5 separate regions of the Homo sapiens genome follow, and regions 2, 3, 4 and 5 are each reported to be linked to region 1. Evidence: microRNA targets listed by miRTarBase, many of them from high-throughput screens and not tested one by one. Region 1 holds a microRNA gene; each other region holds the end of a gene's coding sequence.

Region 1 (5,101 bases):
ATTTCTCCTTCCATGTGTCATCCTCAGCTCCTCCTCCCTCCCAGGTGTCCCATGGAGCCCCTCCTCCTCCATCCTTGTGTCATGTTCGACACCTCCTCCACTCATATGTCACATGGAGCCTCCACCCATGTGACACAAATAATTTCTCATCTACTTGTATCACACTGAATGTTCTATCTTTCTTAAGGGTGTCACAGCAAGCCCCACTAATGTGTCACAGGACGCCCCTCTCCCACTCTTGTAGCACACTGAGCTCCTTCCACCACTTAGGTGTCACTCTGACCCTGTCCTCTGCGTGTGTGTCACTAGGAGCCCCACCCATTCAGCTGCACTCTAAGTTCCTCCTCTAATCATGTGTCACACATGTAGTCTCTCCCCACACTCATAAGTCATACAGAATGCCTCTCCCCATCCATGTATCACATTGAGTTTCTCTTCAACATGTGTTACTCAGAGCCCTTCCCTGACTCATGTGTCACCTGGAGCCCCTGTCCCTGTCCATGTGTTACACCGAGTTCTTTCCTGCTCATATGTCACATGAAGCTCCTCCTCTACTCACAAGGCACACAGCACCCCCTGCCCGTTTGTCGAATGGACCCCTCACCTCATGCATGTATAACACTGAGCCGCTCTCCCACCCCGTGTCGTACTGAGCTCCTCCTCCACTGATGTATTGCATGGACTCCTTCTGACACGCGGAGCCCTCCCTGCACCCTTGTGTCTCACTGGGCATCTCTTCCCAACCTTGTGTCCCGTGAGATCTTCCCCCACCCACGTGTCACATCAAGTCCTCTTTCTTGTGTTACTCCAAGTCCCTGCCCCCATATGTCACAGAGAGACTCTTCCCACCCACGTGTCACACCAAGTCGCCTTTCTTGTGTTACTCCAAGTCCCTTCCCCCCATATGTCACACAGAGACTCTCTTCCCACACACGTCACACTGAGCCCCTTTTCTGTCTCACATTCCACCTCTCCTTCACTCATGTGTCATGAGGAGCCTTTTCCCTACTAATGTGTCACCTGAGCTTCTCTCACATGTCACTTGAAGTCCTCCCCTTCCCATGCATCACCCAGAGACCTTCCCCCCACTCATGCATTGCCCTGAGCCCCTCCCTTACTTATGTGACATGGAGCCCCTCTCCACACCCATGTGTCACACCAACCCTCTCTCCACTGATGTGTCACACCAACCCCCTCTCCACCCATGCGTCACATGGAGCTCTTCCCCCACCCGTGTGTCACACCAGCCCCCTCCTCCACCCATGTGTCACACTAACCCCCCCCACCCATGTGTCACACCAGCCCCCTCCTCCACCCATGGGTCACACCAACCCCCTCCTCCACCCATGTGTCCCATGGAGCTCTTCCCCCACCCGTGTGTCACACCAGCCCCCTCCTCCACCCATGTGTTACAGGGAGCCCCTCCTCCCTCCATGTGTCTGTCAATCTGAGCCCCTTTTCCATTCATGTGTCACTCTGAGCCTCTTTCCCACCTCCATACCCTCCTGCCACCCCTACTTCTTAATCTTTAACCCCTTTCCCTAAAGGTTTCCCTCCATGGGCTCTTTCAGAGAATGTTATATTATCAGGTCATTTACTCACAGATATTTTTGCACCACCTACCACGTGCCTGGCTGCGTGTCCCTGTGCATGTGTGTTGGTGGTGTGGATGGCTGGAGAGTGTAGGACGAGGCAGGCAGTATGGTGGTTGAGAAAGATGTCAAAGAACAAAGGAAGGTGTTTTGGGGTACAACTTTATTGAGATGTAATCCACATACACACAATCCGCCCATTAAAGCTCACAGCGAAGTGTGTTTTAGTTATTCACAGATATCTGCAACTATCACCATAATCAATTTAAGATCATTTTCATCACCCCCAAAAGAACTCCAGAGCCTTCAGCTGTCACCTTCACCCTCCATGCACACCCCCCAGCCCTCAGCAACCAAAAATCTACTTTCTGTCTCTGGGAAATTCTTGAAGTGCCCCTGGACTTCATGAGTCCTCACTGGGTCCCCAGAGGTGCCTGTTGCAACCCATTTCACAGATGTAGAAGGCAAGGCTGGAGAAGTACCAGGGAGTCAAAGCAGTGGGTGGGTGGGGTCGAGTCCCCGATGTCCACTCACAGACCTGGGCCAGAATCAGGCCTGTCTCCCCCTTCACCTCCCCATCCTCCGTCCCTTGGCCTGGCTGCACAGTCACCTGGGGGCTCTGTGGGGCTAAGGGAGGCCCAGGCCCTGGCCATAGGAGGCAGGTAGGGCAAGGCTGGGCAGGGTGGACAGGTACCCCAGCGCTGCAGGTGCCCAGCAGTGGGTGGCACTGCCTAGGCTGGCTGTCCCTTGCTGTCACTGCTCTAACCACTAGCAGCAGGCGTCCCCTCTGCCATCCGAGCGCTTGCACTGCGCTTCCGGGAGGAGGGTTGCGGCCCGTAGTCAGTAGTTGGGGGGTGGGAACGGCTTCATACAGGAGTTGATGCACAGTTATCCAGCTCCTATATGATGCCTTTCTTCATCCCCTTCAACCACGCGCAGCCCCCGGACCCTCCTCTGCACCCTTGGCTGCACGGGGACGCGTCCTCAAGTCCGCTGCTGTCCTGCCAGCCTCTTCCCGGCATGCTCCTTGGGCTCTTCTCTCTCTCTTCTGCAGCTCTCTGACTTCCTGGAGGGGAGGGCCTGGGGCTGGGCCATCTCTGAGGCCCCTCCTTGGCAGGGAACTATGCCCCTGGTGGGACACCCCCTGGGCTGACTCCACAGCCAAGGGCAGATAGGCCGGAGGGGGAGTTGGGTAGCCCTGGGGCTTCTCCCACTGAGGGGCTGGGGCTGTGCTCCCACACAGAGCCCTCCAAAGGGACCCGGCCCACAGGATGGATGGACAGACGTTGGAGAGATGGTGCCCCTTTGTGCCCAGGGTGGAGGGGGTGGGGCTTTGGCGGACCAGGGCTGGCCCTTTCTGTGCCCCAAGAGGAGGGTCTCCTCGAGGGGTCTCTGCCTCTACCCAGGACTCTTTCATGACCAGGAGGCTGAGGCCCCTCACAGGCGGCTTCTTACTCTCTCCTTAAACCTGTTCTGGAGACATTTCCCCTCTCCCCAAGGATTCCCAACTCTGGGTCCCCAGAAGCTGTCAGCTGGGCTCCCTTCTTCCCCTGTGCGTACCCTGCTCAGGCTGGGTACCTGAGGGTGCCCAATGGCAACATGAGCAGGGGGCACGGCCGTGGCCCCTGGTTCTTGGACCTCTGTCTTCTGCCTCTCTGACTAACTCAGGTCCTGTGCATGGCAGAGGTGACCCGCACCAAGCCCTGTGATATTGGCATCATTAACCCCATTAACAAGCCACGACAGCCAGCCCAGGCATGAGCATCGGGGCAGCAGGGCAGCCAGTGTGGGGAGAGAGGCCTTGCAGTAGCTGAGGCCATTAGAGAGGACAAGAGGGTGCAGGAGGGAGCATCCTCACCTCTGCCCTTCCCACTTACATCCCATCTCCCCTTCCTCACCCCTCCTTCCCCATGCACCCCTTCTTCCTGTAGGAGGGAGCACCCTCACCTCTGCCCTTCCCACTCACCTCCCATCTTCCCTTTCTCACCCCTCCTCCCCAATGCACCCCCTCCCTTCCTGCAGGAGGGAGCACCCTCTCCCCTGCCCTTCCTTCCCACCTCCCGTCTCCCCTTCCTCACCCCCGCTTCCCCCATGCACCCGCTCCCTTCCTGGTCTACCCCTCAGCTTCTGTGGTGTCAGGATGGGTATGCTTGTCTTTGTTGATCTCAGACAGGTGGACAGGGGTCTGGACGAGGCTTACTGTTTGGGTCTGAGGTCAGTGCTCATGGGCTTGGGGCATGACAAGGGTCTTGTCGTCCCCGCAGCAGGGCTCTGAGCGGGTGGGTGGAGCTTGGGAGTGGGGGTGATGGCTTCTATTTGTTGTCTTTCTCTTTTTCACTTTGGGAGCAACCGGGGTCACCAGGTGGGCAGGAGGGGACCTCACGTCTCTGCCCTGGGCAGATTGTTAAGAGCTGGTCAAGCTCCTGGCACGGGGGCCTGAGTCCAAGGCCCTAACTGGACCTGGGGCCGCCTGCAGGAGGGATGAGCGAGTCCGGACCCGAGCGGTGAGTAGCCCTCAGCTGCCTGGGTGGTGTGCTGTTGAGTGTTCCAGAAACTGGCCCTGTGTGCACCAGGGCTGGAGGCTGGCACGTTGGGCATCTCATGGGGGTGGGCTGGGTCGGGAAGGGAGGTTGATGGACAAGACTCAGCAGGAGTGGAGCTCAGGGCTCCCTCCATCCCCTGACATCAGTGACCTGGGGGTGGACAGAGAAGGTGGAAGATGGGTGCATTTAGTTGTGGCCCGCCAGGTCCCGTGGGCCTGTGTGCCAGTGTCCGCGCCAGGCTGTGCTGTCTGCTGTTCAGAGGAGTTTTCACCTTTTTTTGTGGTGGCCATGATGTCATAACCCAGCATGACATTTAACATTAACCTTCCTTTTTCTTTCCCCAGGAGAAAAAAAGGTTTGTATTATTTTTCTTTTGAATTTTTTATTTCCATAGGTTTTGGGGAACAGGTGGTGTTTGGTTACATGAGTAAGTTCCTTGGTGGTGATTTGTGAGATTCTCGTGCACCCATCACCTGAGCAGTACACACTGAACCCAGTTTGTACTTTTATCCCTCACCCCCTCCCACCCTTTTCCTGGAGTCCCCAGAGTCCGTTGTATCACTTTATCAGTAGTTCTCCTCTGGGCCTGGGGGCTGCCGCTCTTCTCTGTAAACTAAACCTGCTGTGGCTGGATGGGGCAGGGGAGCCAAGGAGGCGAGGTCCTCACTGTCTGCTGGTGTGGGGGGCCGTGGCCACTCTAGCACCGGGAGCCCCCAGTCAATATGTGTGTGTGTGTGTGAACTGTGGATAAATACGCTTACCTTAGCGCGTGTCTGGATTCCCCCACTGTGGGGCACGGGTGATTACTGCTGGTAAATTCTCTGTTTGGCCTTACCCTGCAAGGTAGTCCTGTTCATCCCTCCACCTTTTTTTTTTTTTTTTCTTGAGACGGAGTTTCACTCTTGTTGCACAGGCTGGAGTGCAGTGGCGCGATCTCAGCTCATCGCAACCTCCGCCTCCCAGGTT
Region 2 (5,099 bases), not on the chromosome of region 1:
ATCCCAGCACTTTGGGAGGCTGAGGTGGGCGGATCACCTGAGGTCAGGAGTTCGAGACCAGCCTGACTAACATGGTGAAACCCCGTCTCTACTAAAAATACAAAAATTAGCTGGGCACGGTGGTGGGCGCCTGTAGTCCCAGCTACTTGGGAGGCTGAGGCAGAAGAATCGCTTGAACTCGGGAGGTGGAGGTTGCAGTGAGCCGAGATCACGCCACTGCACTCCAGCCTGGGCAGCAAGAGTGAGACTCCATCTCAATAACAAAAAACAAAACAAAGAATCATTCAAGGTTAAGATGATAAATTAAATGTCAAGTGGTTGCTACATCTAAACAAGATCTACATCTAAACAAGGTTGCTAGCATCTAAAAACTCTTAGATCAGGGCTTTTCTCTTTTTTCTTTTTCTTTTTTTTTAGAGCAAGACTTAATTTACCATGTTGTGCCTAATACAAAAAGGATTTCATTTATCTGGTAAGGCAGTCTTAGTAGGGGTGTAGCCACCATCTCTCGTGTTTTGTTCACCCCTTACTTCCCCACTTGCTAAACCCAATAACCCCACCGTTTACTTACCAGTAATGTGGTTACTATTTGAAGCATCTAAATCTATTGGAGATGACAATTTAGAGAGCTGGACAAAAATCATATAATTTCAAGTATAACAAACTTAAATGGCATATTCAATGGTAAGAACATTAAAAGTATCTGCTCCATTATATTAACTTAGTGTTGCTCTTTTTTTCTTCTTCATTTTTAAATTTCAAAAGAGGCCACATTCCTATGACACTTGGCCAAGAAATGTAGGAAATTAAAAAGTCCTTATTAAAATGTCTCCTGCCAGATGGAAAGGAGACTTGATTCAATTAGGCCTTTTGCATCTTTGGAAGTGGGGAGGGGATGAAATAAAGACACCTTTCCGTCCTGTGCAATAACTACTTTGTCCTTTTGTTGTCAATATTCTTGTATTGGGATTAGTCTCTCTGTGGGGCAAAACAACCTCTGAAACTGGCCTTACATTTTGTTAAAATTATCCTCAGGTTGGCACAAAAGAGCATTATCTCCAAGGCCAGTAAGGTAGTAACTCCTGGAAGCAATAGGCGGAAAGCAGAGGTTTCTCTCCTTCATGCCAAGGTCATGGTCACTCCAAAGGTGAGGGATGAAACAGTAAATATATAATACAGAAATATCCCTATTCTCTTTAAATGAGGAAAACAAAGAAAAGTAAGTATCCAAAGATAACAATTTTACTTTAAAAAATGCAAATTTCTCAAAAATATATGTTAAGAATTTACATAAGGAAGAGGAGCTACAAAATACTTTTTTCCTTTCATTGGGAAAAAATTATAACAAAATTAAATTAATGCAATGGAGACACTCTTGTACAAAATTTTGTGTTCAGAAAATACTGCTCATTAAAAATGACATTTTTAGTCAAAAGGTAGCTCTGTTCAATTTTGAGTACACAAGAAGCTTTTTCAATTTGCTTAGGAGAAAAATTCATCTATTTATTTACTTATTTATTTAGAGATGGAGTTTCACTCTTGTTGCCCAGGCTGGAATGCAATGGTGTGATCTTGGCTCACTGCAACCTCCGCCTCCTAGGTTCAAGCAATTATCCTGCTTCAGCCTCCTGAGTAGCTGGGATTACAGGCACCCGCCACCAGGCCCGACTAATTTTTATATTTTTAATAGAGACAGGATTTCACCATGTTGGTCAGGCTGGTCTTGAACTCCTGACCTCAGGTGATCCACCCACCTCGGCCTCCCAAAGTGCTGGGATTATAGGTATGAGCCACTGCGCCCAGCTAATTCATCTTTTTAATAGCAATGCTCCTTTAGTTTGCTATGGTTTACACTGATGCTATGGAAAAAATATACTGTACTGCTATTATTAGAGGAAGAATAATTTGTACCATCATATAAACAATATACTCAATTTTCATAAAGCTTACATGAACTGGGAATCAGAATATTTTTCCATTAAAAATTTGTGTCTTGGCCAGGCATGGTGGCTGATGCCTGTAATCCCAGCATTTTGGGAGGCCGAGGCAGGTAGATCACCTGAGGTCTGGAGTTCGAGACCAGCCTGGAACAATATATAGTGAAACCCCATCTCTACTAAAAAATACAAAAATTAGCTGAGCATGGTGGTGCACGCCTGTAGTCCCAGCTACTTGGGACACTGAGGCAGGAGAATCGCTTGAACCCAGGAGGCGGAGGTTGCAGTAAGCTGAGATCACGCCACTCTACTCCAGCCTGGGTGACAGAGCAAGACTCCATCTCTCAAAAAAACAAAAATAAACAACAACAAAAATTTGTGTCTCATCAAAACTAGAATACTAGTGGAACAATTGGGATTAATCTGCAAGAAAATATAACTTATAGAATTGGCATTTATTTAACAATAGTTTAATAGTTTAAATAGAATTTCTCATCTTATAAATTTATCATCTTAAGAGGCAGTGCTTAAAGCATTACAAACTTATAATACTCCCAATTAGGGGGGTTATGATTATAAATTTTCCATTTCCATTTTTGTATTCAGGGATTATTAAATTTTTAAAAAAGGCTATTCATGACTGATATGACCCCCGTAAATTAGCTAAAAAAAAGATATGACCCCATAAATTAGCTACAAACTGTTAAGTACAGCATATAAATGGGTAAAGTAAAGTTGTCCCAAAGCAAAGTTCCAGGACTCAGAAAGCTTTGGTTGAGATCAGAGATTGAGTCTTACAGATTTCACAATGCTAACAGTTAATGGCATATCTTATCTTGATTGCCTCCCCTAGAAATACTAACTATTAAAGTTGGAAAAAGCAAAATAGTTTTTCCTTAGCACATGAGATAACCCAGAGATCTTTCTGACTTAAAAACAATTAAAAAATTAAATAACAAATAAAAAGCCCTGAGTGCTAAAACAAGCAAACTGATTACAAAACAGGCAAAACCCCATACCCTCTATTTTCAAGTAAATTTGTATTCACTGGCTGCAGTTTAAAGGGAAAAAACAACAAATTTCAAAGTCATGGATTTACAGTAAGGACTTGACACACTGACTCTAGGGCAGGTTAGGTATATTTCACAAGGAGGTCCAGGCTGTGGTAGAGATTTGGTGGTCAGTCCTGACCAGACCTTAGAGGGTACTTGTGAGACACCACAAAAATCAGGGGGAATGGAAGCCTCTTAAAATAATTATTTGAAGAAAAGCCCATAATTCCCCATACTTCCACAGAAGCTAAAGGCACATAGAATATTCTGTTCTACATAAAAAACATTCGTTTTATGTTTCCACATGACCTTAAAAGGACATACAGAACAAGGTAAATTTGTATGTTTTTTAAGATTAAAGTAATCTCTAATCTTAAGAAGCCAAAAACAAAGAAATAAAGATGGACAAAGAGTATTCTTCAACTTTTCTTCATTGCACAGGGAAATCCCCCTGAGGTAAGAATAAGAAAACTCAGTAAGTTGGAAAATATTTCTAAATTTAACATATTTTCCTCAAAAATCACATTTGAATATTGATATAGGTTTAATACAATTAAAAATCATAAAGATATTAAGAAGCAACCTCAGCTTTTATGTAATTTCTTTTCTTCTCTTTTTCTTTCTTTTTTGAGACAGAGTCTCTCGATCTTGTCACCTAGGCTAGAGTGCAGTGGCACGATCTCGGCTCACTGTAACCTCCACCTCCCGGGTTCAAGCAATTCTCCTGCCTCAGGCTCCCAAGTAGCTGAGATTACAGGCACGTGCCACCACACCTGGCTAATTTTTATATATATATATTTTTAATAGAGATGGGGTTTCACCATGTTGTTCAGGCTGGTCTCGAACTCCTGACCTCAGGTGATCCACCCGCCTCACCCTCCCAAAGTGCTGGGATTACAGGTGTGAGCCACTGGCCTCTTTTTTTTTTTCTAAAGAGACGAGGTCTCACTTTGTTGCCCAGACTGGAGTGCAATGGCACAATCACAGCTCACTGCTGCCTTGAATTCCTGGGCTCAAGGGATCCTCCCACCTCAGCCTGCTGAGTAGCTGGGACTATAGGTGTGCTCCACTGCACCTGGTTAGTTTTTTGTAGATACGGGGTCTCACCATCTTAAGCAGGCTGGTCTCAAACTACTGGGCTCAAGCGATCCTCTCACATTGGCCTCCCAAAGTGTTGGGATTACAGGCGTGAGCCACTGCACCCAGCTTTATGTAATTTCTTAATCACCATTCTGAACCCTTGTCAGATTGGGCTATGGATGAATATTGGAATAGTTTTGAACCTTAACTTATAGGGGACCTTTCTAAGCAACAAACATTTCCTAGTTGGGATTTTGTTTAACATACAAACAACCAGCAAGCCTTTCTTCATCTTTAATAAAGCATGCATATTTACTCAAGTATCAAACCACACCTTCCTTTGCCATTTCTCATAAGCTGAATTTTTATTTTAGCATTTTTAATAGCAATGCCCTATTAGGTTATTATGAGGGATTTTTCCAGTAAGACATATTTTTCATCCCACAAGGCTGACTTTTCAAAAATCACTGTTTACTTATAAAAATATAAAATTTTTAATCTATTATAAAAGGAAATAGATTTCAGCACAATTATTAAAGACAATAGAGTATTTAGAAAAGTTCACATTGATCAGTATTAAAATATACCTCACTGAAATATACTTACTTATAAAAACATATTGCCTTTGCCGTGTGAAAATCTGGTGTTTAGTTCTCTAGATTTTTTTATTAGGGCTTTTTTCTGAGCTTCATCAAACCGATTAACCTTGAGATCTTTATCACGGTCAAATGGTATTCTCTCTTGAGGCTTATTTTTGTCTTCAGCAGCCTTACTCTTTAACTTTTTATGATGTATGTCCATAAGAGATTCTGATCTTTTTGATTCCTGGAGAGAGCAGGAGAGCAGAAATAAAAACTATAGTTTGTATATAGATTATTGACAGAATATGACCATGAAACGGAATAGATAGTAATGGTGCACATTAAGGAGGGCTATTTACAAACCCCAGTAGTTTTTTTTTTTCCAAATCCAAGACAGCATTTATAAAGAAAATATGTAATGAAAAGCATTATGGTTATTTAAATACTAA
Region 3 (5,101 bases), not on the chromosome of region 1:
CTGCTCCCTGTGCACTCACTCTTGGTCTAATTTCTTACCAGTGGATGATTCTGTTTGAGCCTTTCTCTCTAAGAGTCTCTCTCTAGAAACCTACCCCTTTCTGGTAGATATGATCTCTGTCCCACTTACTTTCTCTCTTGGGTGGCCTGAGGGTAAGGTGATATATAGTCTTTGAAATTGATTATATTATGTTTCTAATCCTTTCATTTGTAGGTATCTAGGAAAAAAGCTAAGGGAAATAAGACGGAAACCCGCTTCAACCAGCTGGTCGAACAATATAAGCAGAAATTATTGGGACCTTCTAAAGGAGCACCTCTTGCAAAGAGGAGCAAATGGTTTGATAGTTGATGATGGCAGCAGGCTGGGTAAGAAGCTGGGTTGTGTACTTTCTGGTGACACTCCTGGGCTCCTCCCCATCCCCCGTGTCTCTCACTGAGGGAAAGAAAATCCCCAAGGGCACTGCCACTGTGCTCGGAGGTGCCCTGGACTGTGTACATCTGAACTTTGGTCCATCCTTTGATGTGTGGTTCGTTAGCCACAAAGAGAAATATCTGAAAGTCAACATGATGCTTCTTGCATATTATCCAGATTATTGTATGAAGTTGTGTCTATAATTATTACCAATTTTTATTCTTTATTTCTCAAATGGAAACACCTGAAAAAGCATTCTGGAGTGCTGAATTTTTAAGATGTATATTTTGTTAAGCATATTCTCTAAATGAGATATTGTGTGGCTTTTTAGTAACAACGTCATTTCTAATATGTGTGACTCCTTTATTATGTATGAACATTCTTTGACATTCCTAATTCAGCTCTGTAGTCTTACACACTGCAGGAACTGTCTAAGCGAGAGCAGAGAGAAATGCTTTCTAACCTAATCGCTGCAGGCGGAGACACTTGGAAAAGAATGGGGGGAGGTGGGGCCTGACAGAGAGCAGCACTTATGTGTTTGTCAGATGAGGGGATTTCCAGTTGAATTGGCCTGCAGTGGCCTAAAGACACTAGCCTGGTTAGCGATGACCTGCATTTCTCTCATAGAGCACCTCCCTTTTCATCGTATCCACTAGCTCTCTAAGTCCTCCTTAATGAGGACACTTGATCCTCATTAAGTCTGCCCCTTAAGATGGCTTCACACCTACTGAAAAACTCCAGGGGTTTGACATCTCACTTTGATTGAAATCTTGTCTTCCTATAACATTTGATTCCCTGGGCTCTTCAGCCCTATCACCTCTGCTTGTCTTTATCCACTCTCTTCTTCATTCACTTTTGGCTACACAGGCCTTCCTTCCATCTCTTGACTCTTGACCACCTCAGAGCCTTTGTATCCGTTCCCTTTGCCTGGAGAGTTTTTCCCTTGCATCTTTTACTTGTCACTCAGATCTCCACTAGTTGTCGCCTCCTCCTGGAGCTCTTCCCAGACTATCTAAAGTAGGGCTTTTCTTCCCCTCCCCTCTATCTTGCCCCCTTACTGAAATCTGCTTCCCTGTTTCTTCTTCTTTTTTTTTTTTTTTTGAGATGGAGTCTCACTCTGTCGCCCAGGCTGGAGTGCAATGGCGCTGTCTCAGCTCATTGCAACCTCCACCTCCCGGGTTCAAGCGACTTTCCCGCCTCACCCTCCCAAGTAGCTGGGACTACAGGTGCACGCCACCATTCTTGGCTAAATTTTGTATTTTTAGTAGAGATGGGGTTTCACCATGTTGACTAGGCTGGTCTTGAACTCCTGACCTCAGGTGATCCGCCCACCTCGACCTCCCAAAGTCCTGGTATTACAGGCGTGAGCCACCACGCCTGGCCTGCTTCCCTGTTTCTTTCTAGCACTAATCTCTATCTGAAATCATTTGTCTCTTTCTAGCACTAATCTCTATCTGAAATTGTTTGTCTCTCCAGTTAGAATGTATGCTTTGTGAGAGGGACTTTATCCCTCTTGTTCACTCCTGTAGACACAGCACCTAGTACTGACCCAGGCACGTAGTAAGTATTGAATAAATATTTGTTGAATGAAAAAAATAAGGTAGGAAAGGAAGAAACAGTATTCAGTAGGCAAGAGAAAAAGTTGAGAACGTGGCCCAAAATTCTTGATTGCTTAGTCTAGTTGAGTGTTACAAATAATGCTTTGACAGAACCATTGCTGAGCTAGAGATATGGTTATTTCTTTTTTTTTTTTTTTTTTGAGACAGTCTTGCTCTGTTGCCCAGGCTGGAGTGCAATGGCATGATCTTGGCTCACTGCAACCTCCGCCTCCTGGGTTCAAGCGATTCTCCTGCCTCAGCCTCCCGAGTAGCGGGGATTACAGGTGCTGCCACCACGCCCGGCTAATTTTTGTATTTTTAGTAGAGACGGGTTTTCACCATGTTGGCCAGGCTGATCTCAAACTCCTGACCTTGTGATCTGCCCACCTCAGCCTCCTGAAGTGCTGGGATTACAGGCATGAGCCTGGTTGAGACATGGTTATTTCATCGCAATATCTTGGGGAACCCATGAATGCTCTGAAATGCCTTTGGTTTAGAAATGGATGAAGGAGAGGCCATGGAAATATTTAGACCTTTTGGAGAGATCGAAAGGACAGGTGATTTATCTCCAAGTTCACCTCGAGACATGACTTGGGCTGTCAAATGTTCTTACGGTAGCCTGGCAACATGTCTTTCTCAGCCTGGTCTGTACAGTGTGGAGGAAGTAAGGGACTTTATTAAGAGTGTCACAATAGCTATAACCTGCCAGTCAGGTGATCTGTTTTTCCTTGGCCATCTCTCCGTCTGCTCACCACTCTTTTTTCCCTAGTACACGAATATCTTTAACATTCAAAAATATATCTTAACACTTAGGATAGATCAAAATTGGTGTTCATTCAGATAACATTGTCAGATTCTCTTAGATCCAAATATTTCTTTTAACAACTTAACAGTATGTTAAAACCTCATTCACTTGCTTGGAGAGCTGTTGTACAGTTCTTTAAAGAGTTCTTTATATGAGGTTGAATCTTCCCTTTCTTAATAGTCAAATTCTATATATGGTGTCTTCCTTTGGAACACCTTACCATGGGCTATTTGGTCAGCTCCATTGACTCCTTGCCTTGGGAATTTTAGTGCAGTGAGAGTTGTGCTCACTTCTCCTTCACTTCAGGGCCTGATGTGTCAGGAAATGGAGTTTTCTGAATTAACATGAAAGTTGAGTTGCAGATTGCTTGGTTAAAAAACAACAGGTGGGGCACAGAGTCTCATACCTATGATTGCAGCACTTCGGGAGGTGGGAGGATTGCTTGAGGTCAGGAGTTTGAGACCGACCTGGCCAACATAGTGAGACCCCCATCTCTATTATTTTGAAAAACAACAGCAAATTTTTTCTTAACATCCAAGACAAGGCCACCAGTCAAAACTATCAAGTTTTAGTAGTATTTTCCTGCTTGATTATATAATAGCCTGGCTTAGAGATACAACCTTTAAATAAGGAATCTTAAGATGATGTGCAGCTGTTCTTTGCCTTATTTGTTTGTTTGTTGGTTAGTTTGTAGTTTCTAAGAATCTGCTCTGTTCAGCTGTACAGTTCCTTCTTCTGGAGTTAACCTGTGGCAAGGATTATGTTTCACCTGTCACAAAAATGAGATCTGTGCCTTCCTCTATTATAAAGTTAGGGCATGTGATTCATTCTTCGAAATACTTCAAAATGTACTTTGGTATGTTTTTGTCTTGAAAAGAGGTTTTCTAGCTAGAAATTCGGGGCCCAGAAGGTCAAGGCTCCAGAGATCCCCTTCTCATCATCCTTCAGTTGTCTGAGGAGACAGAGGATCACATGTGTCACAGTGAGTGCTGATTCCCCAGAATCTGCAGTCTTAAGCTCCCCTGCTGACGCACACAGCCAGTTCTCTGCTTCATATTCATGTGACCCACTGTGAAGTGACAGGCAGCTGCCAATTCTGTCATATAAGAAGCAGCTCTGCCCATGCAACTTTGAAAGTTCCTGCACTTCTCCATAGACTGCTCCTTCATGGAAATAAACACATCATCACACTGTGGGTGCCTAAGCTAAGTTTGTTTGCAGTTTGATGATGCCCAGCTCCTTTTCAACTCAGCCTTAATTGGCACTTTAAGGGCCAGGATGAGGTTTCTCTCAGGCCAAGTCGAGATTTCCAGATTTCCTTTTGTCCAAGGCTGACCAGTTTAGAAGTTATTCACATCCTTGTTTTAGTTCTTTCCTTCTTGTCCTGGTACCTCTTCCTTTCCAGGATTATTTGCAGAGTCTGTGATGGCTTACTTGGTGACCAGACATGGGGTGAGCTACTGGTATAGTCTGATTACTTTGGCATCTATTCTGAACTGGTCATTGGCTGTACATGAGTTTTTGTGCTGGTAAAGGAATATACTGGGAAGATTGGAAGGCACAGACTGGGAACTAATTCTGAGAAGAGAACTGCTGAGTTACTGAAAGACCTTTTGGACCACCCCTAAATGGAGCATCTTGATAGATGGCAAATCCAGTGTTTCTTAAACTTGTCCATGCTGCCCAGAGCCCACTGCCTTTTATCAGATGTGAGACTTCACTGCCACAGTGTCATCCCACAGTTTCCTTCCCTGGACATTTGATAAAGGGAAAATCATTTCTTGTCCTTTAAGGCAGGGACTATTATTTTTTCACTTTTCCACATACCCCACAACACCTAACATTGATTTACTCGTAGTAGGAGTTTCATACTGTTGAACTCTCTAAAGGCCATTTGTTCCAGGGCCTAGCTGGGCTTGTGAAGGACAACAGAGTCATTTCCTAAGGACCCCAAAAGACAGCATGAAGGAAAAAATAATAATAAACTGCTGTTCACAGTGCCTTGAGTGTACCACCGTACTTTCTGCTATGCCTTGTCCATTCCAATCTGGACAGTCTCTGTGCCCCTCCTTTCCACTCAAGTGTTATCCAGCACTCAAGTTCTGGCTCAAGGCCCAACATCTCCGTGGGGACCTCAGCCATCCCAGGGCATTGTGACCCCTTCCTCTAAGTCCCCGGCACACTCGCTGATTGGTACCCTCTCATTCGACAAAGCATATGCCATTGTGGCTTACTTGTCATTTCTTTAGGTCTTGCCTTCCCAAGTAGATCATGAGCCACTATAAGA
Region 4 (5,098 bases), not on the chromosome of region 1:
TCCGGTTCCGGCCTGGCGAGAGTTTGTGCGGCGACATGAAACTGCTTACCCACAATCTGCTGAGCTCGCATGTGCGGGGGGTGGGGTCCCGTGGCTTCCCCCTGCGCCTCCAGGTACCCGCCGGCGGCAGTCTTCCCTTTTCGGGCGGGATGGTGGGCCGGGGTCCAGTGCTTGCCTAAACTCCTCCGCCCTGCAGGCCACCGAGGTCCGTATCTGCCCTGTGGAATTCAACCCCAACTTCGTGGCGCGTATGATACCTAAAGTGGAGTGGTCGGCGTTCCTGGAGGCGGCCGATAACGTGAGGATCCTTACCCCGCCCCAGCATATCCCGGGGAATGCGGGGCGGGCACACCTCAGCCGGGCTGAGGCGGGAGTTCGGGATGCCCGGAGATAATTTTGGCCTCTTGCCCACAGTTGCGTCTGATCCAGGTGCCGAAAGGGCCGGTTGAGGGATATGAGGAGAATGAGGAGTTTCTGAGGACCATGCACCACCTGCTGCTGGAGGTGAGAAGCGGCCCATCACTTGCTTCCCGGGCCACCTGCCTCCCGCACTGAGGCTGCCAGTGCTCAGCTCTGTCCCTCCCTGCCCGCAGGTGGAAGTGATAGAGGGCACCCTGCAGTGCCCGGAATCTGGACGTATGTTCCCCATCAGCCGCGGGATCCCCAACATGCTGCTGAGTGAAGAGGAAACTGAGAGTTGATTGTGCCAGGCGCCAGTTTTTCTTGTTATGACTGTGTATTTTTGTTGATCTATACCCTGTTTCCGAATTCTGCCGTGTGTATCCCCAACCCTTGACCCAATGACACCAAACACAGTGTTTTTGAGCTCGGTATTATATATTTTTTTCTCATTAAAGGTTTAAAACCAAAAGCGGTTTCTCTTTGCAGCAAATATACATTAAAATAGAGTCTCTGTACAGCCAAGGGCTCTGGGCCCTGGCTTGCCCCATGTCCCTGCGCCTCCCTGGCCAAACCCAAAAATAAATATAGTGTTATTGCTCTGCAGGGCATAGAGGCAGTGCTCTCCTACCCCCTGAGGAGGCTCGTTGGGAGCTGATGGGGAAGCCCTGGCCACCCCAGGGGTCCAGGGGCTGGAGTCTGCTTGGAGTTATTGCTTCAAGGGGGGACACTAATGCCCAATGCAAATGATGAGAGGAGGAGCGAAGGGGGCATGGGCCTTTGCTCTCCAAGTCCCACTCTGCTTTGAAGAGGGGGTAGGATTAAGCAGCAGCAAAAGCATCACCCACTGGGAGACTCTGGCCTCCATCCCCTTCCCTCCCTGAGATAGGTTTCTGCCTCCCACGCATCCCGTGCAGCCCCCTATGGCTTCCGCAAGGCCCCCTACACTCTGGGGGCACGTTATGGCTTGCAAGGGGCAGCACTGTGCCCAGAGCCTGGACACACGTTCCCAGCTTCTGACACCCCCTAGGAGGGGGAGGAGAGGGCGTGGGGCCTGTTCCCAGGGGCTGATGGCATTGCCCTGGCCCTGCCAGCAGGCTGTGGCACTGCCCAGACCCCAGCTCCGCCCCAGCCCTTGGGGCTGACCCCATGCTAGGCAGGTCCTGCCAGAACCCCCACCAGTCCCACCCCTTGCCTCAGTCCATCATGGCCTCGAGCATCTCCAAGAACAGCTTGTGCATGGGCACCTTGCCCTCCAGCTTCACCCCATAGAAATGGGCCAGCACTTTGCCCGCTGTCTGGCGGAGGAGCGGTAGCGTGAGCAGCAGCCTGCCCGCCCGCCGCCGCTCAGCACCCCCTCCGGGGCCAGCCCGGCCGGCTTCATACTCCAGCAGGGCCTCGTGCAGAGCTTCTCGCAGCTGCTCCACAGCCTCGGCATCTTCGATGTGCACAGAGTCTGCAAGAAGAGAGGAATGTGGTGTTGGCCTGGGCTATCTCTGGCAAGGGCACTCCCCGTATCTTGAGCACTGCTGGATGGGGCCTAAGGAAGAGCCAAACGAGGATTTGTTGATTGGCTGACTGAGAGGCACCACTCATTGCTGCGGCTCGTGGGCCAGGACCCCACCCTCTCTCCCTCAACTGTGGCCACCTTGTACCCTCCCCACCTTCCCTCCCACTAAATGACCTTTCTGCATTAGTGTGGCACTAGGGCTCAAAATCCTGTGTGCAGTTTGGAGCCTGCACTTGGCTTGCTTTTTGACTTCTAGCAAGTCATTGTTCTTCCCTAAGCCTCAGTTTTCGTTATCTGCAAAATGGGGCTGTGCTACCGTCACTGAGTTAACCTGAAGACCTTACGGAGACACCTCACCTGTCAGTGCCTGCCCCAGACTCACCTGAATTGGCAAGGGCCAAGGCCTTTAGTAGAACATACTCCTCTCGCTCCAGCCGCAGGGCCTGCAGCCGCCGCACTAGTTGCAGCAGGGCAGCCCCCAGTTCCCCCAGGCCAGCTGCCCGTGCCCCCTCTTCATCCAGGACTAAGTCCTCAGCGAAGGCCAGCTCATCCTGCAGTGGCAGTGAGCGCTGGGCCACACCCAGCACCAGCACCTCCATCCACACGCTCTGCAGTACTGACATCTGGTCAGACAGCGACAGCGATGAGAAGCCTAGGGGGCAGCGGGGAGCGGGCCTGGCTGAGCAAGCGCACCAGAGCCGGGCCCGTTCAGGGCAGCCCCGGGTCACCTGGGCCCTTTACCTGGGATGCTCTTGGCCCAGCTGATGGTGACCACAATCTCTCGGTCAAAGAGGTCACAGAGGGTAGCCACGGCTGGGAGGTGCCCATCAGGGCCTGCGGGGTCAGGCATGGCATAGAGCTTCTCAGGCTCAACCACCAGCAGATGAGACACCAGTGCATTCACTGGGGCTGCTGTGACAATTAGAGGACAAGAGTCAGGAGCACTCGAATCTGTCAGGCCTCAGGGGTCAAGCATCTTCCCACAGTGGCTCCCCCTGTGGCCTTCCTCAGTAGCAGCTGTCCAGTGACTTCCCTCCAGGGAAGAGCGCTAACTGTCTCCCAGGGAAAGCCCGTGTGTTTGTGGACAGGCTGTGAGTGTTGGAAAATCGTCCCTGTTCCCAGTTCTACTACTTTTCCTGATGCAGGAAAAGGCAGTTTCACATGTCTTGGGGAAATGAGTGAGTGAAGAGACGAAGGGGAAATACAGGTCCCAGTGCCCAAGGTAACTATGATGCCACACATAGGCCTCCGGTTTCGTAGCCCCAGGTACCCACAGTGCTCTCACCTGTCTTCCGGGGGCCTCCAGCGACTGCCAGGGGCCCAGCAGGGAAGGGGCCCGGGAAGGGCAGTGGGTCCACCTCCGGCCGCCGCTTGTACTTCTGCCGCCCACCCCGGACGCGGTCCAGGCGCACTCCTTGAATTGTGGGACAGATAGGACTGTGACTGTGGTGCTGTGGGCAGGGTGGGGCTTGCTCTCCAGAGCTGTCCTCCCCGAGTCCACTCACCAGAACTCCCAGGCCTCACCCCCACCTGGCCCGGGTCCCCGACTCCCCCAGCCCTCGCCCAGCCCCTGCCCAGCGCTCACCCTCCTTGAGCATGCCCACCCGCAGGCACTTGGTGAAGCGGCAGGCCTGGCAGGCCTTGCGTCTCCGCTTGGTGATCTCACACTCGTTGGAGGCCGGACAGCTGTACTCGATGCTCCCTGCCAGGAAGAGGCAGGGCTCCAGTGGCGGCCTCCCGGGGCTGGGAGGGGACCCAGCTGACAGGAGAGCCCTGACTCTCCCCGGGCAAGCACAGGTCTGGGGGTATGGGGAGGAAAGGGAGAGCAGGGGGCCATGAGCAGGCAGGGAGGGGAGTGGCTGCTGGGCGGGGGAGCCCTGCCTGGATGAGGGAGGAGCTGGACCAGGCAGCGGGGCTGCATCTCAGCCCCAAGCCTCATCTCTGGACCACACTGCCCTCATCTGCCGACATCAAGGGCCACAAGGACCTCTGCATTGCTAAATCCAGTGGTCAATTCTTAGTCCTCATGTTACTTGGCCTAAAAGGAGGATCTAAGGCTGTTGATCACTTCCTGCTCCTAGAAACACTGAAACACTTTCTTCTTTTGCTTCTAGGACAGCATACACTCTGGTTTTCCTCCCACCGCACCAGCCACTTTGTGGTTTCTGAGCATCTTCCCAAGCTCTTCCATCCAGACTGCCAGGGCTGTCCTTGGAGCTCATCTCCAATCCCATGGCAATCTTCCCCAGCCGTGGGGCTCTCACGTTTCTACCTCTAGCCTGGACTTGCTGTGAGCTCCAGACCCATCTCTCCAGCTGCCTCCTTGACATCCTGCATGTCTAGAAGGCATCTCGGACCGAACACAGCCTACGTGGACTCCACGTGTTCACTTGCCCAAGAAGAAACCTAGGCAGAATCTCTGGTTCCTCTCACACCCCACATCCAAGCCACCGACACATTCTGGTGGGCTTTACCTCCTCCAAGGTCCAGAATCCGCCTCCTGCCCCTGGCAACTACTTCCACCCTTGACCTGATAGTCACTGTCACCTCGCCCCTCGCTTGGCTGTCCCTGCTTGCTCCAGTCTGTTCTCGACTCAGCAGCCAAGAGGGTCCTATTAAGCCTCCATTACATCCTGTACCTCCTCTTCTCAAAACCCTCTGGGGATTTCCCTTCTCTGAGTCCAAGCCAAAGCGAACCTATGTCCTCCTAGGCCTACGCCCCTGCTTCTTGCCTCCTTTTGACCTCTACTCCTTGCTCTCGCCTCCTCCATGTTCCTCAAACAGGCCCTGCCTGGAGCTCTAGTCCTGAAGTCCACACAGGCTCCCTCACCTCCCTCTGCTCACTGTCACCTTGAAGATCTTCCCTGGCCACCCTGTGATAATGCCAAATCCCTTTGCAGAGTCCTCCTGGCCTCTGAGCCCTGCTTCTGGTTTCTCTTCAGCCCTCAGCACAACAGACCACGCTGCATATGCACTCACCTATCTTGTTTATTACGCCTCCCCCTTCAGTGGCAGCTCCACCGGGGCAGGAACTGGCCCCAGCACTAGCAACGAGGCCTGGCACATGGTGGGTGCTGGCAGCCCTCCCGGCCTCACAGGGCCCCGCAACGACCAAATGACACAGCTAGACAGCAGGCCCGCAGCACATTTCTCCTCGCGGTGCATTTTCTCCTACCCCCTATTTGCGCT
Region 5 (5,086 bases), not on the chromosome of region 1:
AGAGGGCAGGGGTCACTGAGCGGAGAGCAGAGGAGGAGTGAGCCATTTGCTCCAGCGTGAAGTTGTTGGTGTGATGGGGTTTCAGGGTGGCAGGAGCAGTGTGGTTAAAGGTCTGGAAGCTGTCGGCATGTGGCTGGTATCCAAGGTGGCCAGGAACTCTGCATGGATATGGTGGGAAGCTGGCACGCCTCTCACCTCAGCTCTTCCCTGCAGGCTCTGTGGATAGCAACTGGATCGTGGGTGCCACGCTGGAGAAGAAGCTCCCACCCCTGCCCCTGACACTGGCCCTTGGGGCCTTCCTGAATCACCGCAAGAACAAGTTTCAGTGTGGCTTTGGCCTCACCATCGGCTGAGCCCTCCTGGCCCCCGCCTTCCACGCCCTTCCGATTCCACCTCCACCTCCACCTCCCCCTGCCACAGAGGGGAGACCTGAGCCCCCCTCCCTTCCCTCCCCCCTTGGGGGTCGGGGGGGACATTGGAAAGGAGGGACCCCGCCACCCCAGCAGCTGAGGAGGGGATTCTGGAACTGAATGGCGCTTCGGGATTCTGAGTAGCAGGGGCAGCATGCCCAGTGGGCCTGGGGTCCCGGGAGGGATTCCGGAATTGAGGGGCACGCAGGATTCTGAGCACCAGGGGCAGAGGCGGCCAGACAACCTCAGGGAGGAGTGTCCTGGCGTCCCCATCCTCCAAAGGGCCTGGGCCCGCCCCGAGGGGGCAGCGAGAGGAGCTTCCCCATCCCCGGTCAGTCCACCCTGCCCCGTCCACTTTCCCATCTCCTCGGTATAAATCATGTTTATAAGTTATGGAAGAACCGGGACATTTTACAGAAAAAAAACAAAAAACAACAAAAAATATACGTGGGAAAAAAAACGATGGGAGGCCTCCGTTTTCTCAAGTGTGTCTGGCCTGTTTTGAGCATTTCATCCGGAGTCTGGCCGCCCTGACCTTCCCCCAGCCGCCTGCAGGGGGCGCCAGAGGGCCGGAGCACGGAAAGCAGCGGATCCTTGATGCTGCCTTAAGTCCGGCTCAGAGGGGCGCAGCGTGGCCTGGGGTCGCTATCTTCCCATCCGGAACATCTGCCCTGCTGGGGGACACTACGGGCCTTCCCTTGCCTGAGGGTAGGGTCTCAAGGTCACTTGCCCCCAGCTTGACCTGGCCGGAGTGGCTATAGAGGACTTTGTCCCTGCAGACTGCAGCAGCAGAGATGACACTGTCTCTGAGTGCAGAGATGGGGGCAGGGAGCTGGGAGAGGGTTCAAGCTACTGGAACAGCTTCAGAACAACTAGGGTACTAGGAACTGCTGTGTCAGGGAGAAGGGGCTCAAGGACTCGCAGGCCTGGGAGGAGGGGCCTAGGCCAGCCATGGGAGTTGGGTCACCTGTGTCTGAGGACTTGGTGCTGTCTGGATTTTGCCAACCTAGGGCTGGGGTCAGCTGATGCCCACCACGACTCCCGAGCCTCCAGGAACTGAAACCCTGTCTGCCCCCAGGGTCTGGGGAAGGAGGCTGCTGAGTAGAACCAACCCCAGGTTACCAACCCCACCTCAGCCACCCCTTGCCAGCCAAAGCAAACAGGCCCGGCCCGGCACTGGGGGTTCCTTCTCGAACCAGGAGTTCAGCCTCCCCTGACCCGCAGAATCTTCTGATCCCACCCGCTCCAGGAGCCAGGAATGAGTCCCAGTCTCTCCCAGTTCTCACTGTGTGGTTTTGCCATTCGTCTTGCTGCTGAACCACGGGTTTCTCCTCTGAAACATCTGGGATTTATAACAGGGCTTAGGAAAGTGACAGCGTCTGAGCGTTCACTGTGGCCTGTCCATTGCTAGCCCTAACATAGGACCGCTGTGTGCCAGGGCTGTCCTCCATGCTCAATACACGTTAGCTTGTCACCAAACATACCCGTGCCGCTGCTTTCCCAGTCTGATGAGCAAAGGAACTTGATGCTCAGAGAGGACAAGTCATTTGCCCAAGGTCACACAGCTGGCAACTGGCAGAGCCAGGATTCACGCCCTGGCAATTTGACTCCAGAATCCTAACCTTAACCCAGAAGCACGGCTTCAAGCCCCTGGAAACCACAATACCTGTGGCAGCCAGGGGGAGGTGCTGGAATCTCATTTCACATGTGGGGAGGGGGCTCCCCTGTGCTCAAGGTCACAACCAAAGAGGAAGCTGTGATTAAAACCCAGGTCCCATTTGCAAAGCCTCGACTTTTAGCAGGTGCATCATACTGTTCCCACCCCTCCCATCCCACTTCTGTCCAGCCGCCTAGCCCCACTTTCTTTTTTTTCTTTTTTTGAGACAGTCTCCCTCTTGCTGAGGCTGGAGTGCAGTGGCGAGATCTCGGCTCACTGTAACCTCCGCCTCCCGGGTTCAAGCGATTCTCCTGCCTCAGCCTCCCAAGTAGCTAGGATTACAGGCGCCCGCCACCACGCCTGGCTAACTTTTGTATTTTTAGTAGAGATGGGGTTTCACCATGTTGGCCAGGCTGGTCTCAAACTCCTGACCTTAAGTGATTCGCCCACTGTGGCCTCCCAAAGTGCTGGGATTACAGGCGTGAGCTACCGCCCCCAGCCCCTCCCATCCCACTTCTGTCCAGCCCCCTAGCCCTACTTTCTTTCTGGGATCCAGGAGTCCAGATCCCCAGCCCCCTCTCCAGATTACATTCATCCAGGCACAGGAAAGGACAGGGTCAGGAAAGGAGGACTCTGGGCGGCAGCCTCCACATTCCCCTTCCACGCTTGGCCCCCAGAATGGAGGAGGGTGTCTGTATTACTGGGCGAGGTGTCCTCCCTTCCTGGGGACTGTGGGGGGTGGTCAAAAGACCTCTATGCCCCACCTCCTTCCTCCCTCTGCCCTGCTGTGCCTGGGGCAGGGGGAGAACAGCCCACCTCGTGACTGGGGGCTGGCCCAGCCCGCCCTATCCCTGGGGGAGGGGGCGGGACAGGGGGAGCCCTATAATTGGACAAGTCTGGGATCCTTGAGTCCTACTCAGCCCCAGCGGAGGTGAAGGACGTCCTTCCCCAGGAGCCGGTGAGAAGCGCAGTCGGGGGCACGGGGATGAGCTCAGGGGCCTCTAGAAAGAGCTGGGACCCTGGGAACCCCTGGCCTCCAGGTAGTCTCAGGAGAGCTACTCGGGGTCGGGCTTGGGGAGAGGAGGAGCGGGGGTGAGGCAAGCAGCAGGGGACTGGACCTGGGAAGGGCTGGGCAGCAGAGACGACCCGACCCGCTAGAAGGTGGGGTGGGGAGAGCAGCTGGACTGGGATGTAAGCCATAGCAGGACTCCACGAGTTGTCACTATCATTTATCGAGCACCTACTGGGTGTCCCCAGTGTCCTCAGATCTCCATAACTGGGGAGCCAGGGGCAGCGACACGGTAGCTAGCCGTCGATTGGAGAACTTTAAAATGAGGACTGAATTAGCTCATAAATGGAACACGGCGCTTAACTGTGAGGTTGGAGCTTAGAATGTGAAGGGAGAATGAGGAATGCGAGACTGGGACTGAGATGGAACCGGCGGTGGGGAGGGGGTGGGGGGATGGAATTTGAACCCCGGGAGAGGAAGATGGAATTTTCTATGGAGGCCGACCTGGGGATGGGGAGATAAGAGAAGACCAGGAGGGAGTTAAATAGGGAATGGGTTGGGGGCGGCTTGGTAAATGTGCTGGGATTAGGCTGTTGCAGATAATGCAACAAGGCTTGGAAGGCTAACCTGGGGTGAGGCCGGGTTGGGGCCGGGCTGGGGGTGGGAGGAGTCCTCACTGGCGGTTGATTGACAGTTTCTCCTTCCCCAGACTGGCCAATCACAGGCAGGAAGATGAAGGTTCTGTGGGCTGCGTTGCTGGTCACATTCCTGGCAGGTATGGGGGCGGGGCTTGCTCGGTTCCCCCCGCTCCTCCCCCTCTCATCCTCACCTCAACCTCCTGGCCCCATTCAGGCAGACCCTGGGCCCCCTCTTCTGAGGCTTCTGTGCTGCTTCCTGGCTCTGAACAGCGATTTGACGCTCTCTGGGCCTCGGTTTCCCCCATCCTTGAGATAGGAGTTAGAAGTTGTTTTGTTGTTGTTGTTTGTTGTTGTTGTTTTGTTTTTTTGAGATGAAGTCTCGCTCTGTCGCCCAGGCTGGAGTGCAGTGGCGGGATCTCGGCTCACTGCAAGCTCCGCCTCCCAGGTCCACGCCATTCTCCTGCCTCAGCCTCCCAAGTAGCTGGGACTACAGGCACATGCCACCACACCCGACTAACTTTTTTGTATTTTCAGTAGAGACGGGGTTTCACCATGTTGGCCAGGCTGGTCTGGAACTCCTGACCTCAGGTGATCTGCCCGTTTCGATCTCCCAAAGTGCTGGGATTACAGGCGTGAGCCACCGCACCTGGCTGGGAGTTAGAGGTTTCTAATGCATTGCAGGCAGATAGTGAATACCAGACACGGGGCAGCTGTGATCTTTATTCTCCATCACCCCCACACAGCCCTGCCTGGGGCACACAAGGACACTCAATACATGCTTTTCCGCTGGGCGCGGTGGCTCACCCCTGTAATCCCAGCACTTTGGGAGGCCAAGGTGGGAGGATCACTTGAGCCCAGGAGTTCAACACCAGCCTGGGCAACATAGTGAGACCCTGTCTCTACTAAAAATACAAAAATTAGCCAGGCATGGTGCCACACACCTGTGCTCTCAGCTACTCAGGAGGCTGAGGCAGGAGGATCGCTTGAGCCCAGAAGGTCAAGGTTGCAGTGAACCATGTTCAGGCCGCTGCACTCCAGCCTGGGTGACAGAGCAAGACCCTGTTTATAAATACATAATGCTTTCCAAGTGATTAAACCGACTCCCCCCTCACCCTGCCCACCATGGCTCCAAAGAAGCATTTGTGGAGCACCTTCTGTGTGCCCCTAGGTACTAGATGCCTGGACGGGGTCAGAAGGACCCTGACCCACCTTGAACTTGTTCCACACAGGATGCCAGGCCAAGGTGGAGCAAGCGGTGGAGACAGAGCCGGAGCCCGAGCTGCGCCAGCAGACCGAGTGGCAGAGCGGCCAGCGCTGGGAACTGGCACTGGGTCGCTTTTGGGATTACCTGCGCTGGGTGCAGACACTGTCT

What was found. The annotated mature microRNA hsa-miR-665 reads ACCAGGAGGCUGAGGCCCCU and lies in region 1 at 3,011-3,030, shown strand. An mRNA with a match to its seed (bases 2 to 7 or 8) in the 3' UTR can be bound and repressed. Matches are read on the target gene's strand: a 7mer-m8 pairs with bases 2 to 8, a 7mer-A1 pairs with bases 2 to 7 and ends in A, and an 8mer does both.
Region 2: miRTarBase lists GPALPP1 as a target of hsa-miR-665. Seed matches in the 3' UTR shown: 7mer-A1 at 2,690-2,696.
Region 3: miRTarBase lists RBM28 as a target of hsa-miR-665. Seed matches in the 3' UTR shown: 7mer-m8 at 399-405, 8mer at 1,400-1,407 and 7mer-m8 at 2,239-2,245.
Region 4: the mRNA of TRMT112 is a reported target of hsa-miR-665. The part of its 3' UTR that is shown has no 7-base or 8-base seed match.
Region 5: miRTarBase lists TOMM40 as a target of hsa-miR-665. Seed matches in the 3' UTR shown: 7mer-m8 at 357-363.

What each region holds. Positions count from the first base shown.
Region 1 is chr14:100,872,065-100,877,165 of GRCh38, forward strand. It overlaps MIR665 (microRNA 665), which reads left to right and starts at 2,969; the gene lies at 2,969-3,040. It overlaps MIR337 (microRNA 337), which reads left to right and starts at 2,429; the gene lies at 2,429-2,521. RefSeq lists an enhancer at 1,608-1,777.
Region 2 is chr13:45,027,580-45,032,678 of GRCh38, reverse strand. GPALPP1 (GPALPP motifs containing 1) reads right to left here. Exons shown (of 8, transcript NM_018559.5): 8 at 2,374-4,894. The coding sequence ends at 4,676. Among named protein-coding and RNA genes, the nearest start is that of GPALPP1, 41 kb to the right of the region's middle.
Region 3 is chr7:128,306,044-128,311,144 of GRCh38, reverse strand. It overlaps RBM28 (RNA binding motif protein 28), which reads left to right. Exons shown (of 19, transcript NM_018077.3): 19 at 214-5,101. The coding sequence ends at 348. It also overlaps the pseudogene LOC100418961. Among named protein-coding and RNA genes, the nearest start is that of RBM28, 35 kb to the left of the region's middle.
Region 4 is chr11:64,312,464-64,317,561 of GRCh38, reverse strand. TRMT112 (tRNA methyltransferase activator subunit 11-2) reads left to right here and starts at 3. Exons shown (of 4, transcript NM_016404.3): 1 at 3-113; 2 at 197-298; 3 at 415-504; 4 at 594-1,102. The coding sequence starts at 36. The coding sequence ends at 701. It overlaps ESRRA (estrogen related receptor alpha), which reads right to left. Exons shown (of 7, transcript NM_004451.5): 3 at 3,495-3,611; 4 at 3,195-3,323; 5 at 2,651-2,821; 6 at 2,292-2,561; 7 at 819-1,855. The coding sequence ends at 1,596. RefSeq lists an enhancer at 984-1,499.
Region 5 is chr19:44,902,817-44,907,902 of GRCh38, forward strand. It overlaps TOMM40 (translocase of outer mitochondrial membrane 40), which reads left to right. Exons shown (of 9, transcript NM_001128917.2): 9 at 214-873. The coding sequence ends at 353. APOE (apolipoprotein E) reads left to right here and starts at 2,980. Exons shown (of 4, transcript NM_000041.4): 1 at 2,980-3,025; 2 at 3,786-3,851; 3 at 4,944-5,086. The coding sequence starts at 3,809. RefSeq lists enhancers at 2,297-3,099, 3,902-4,704.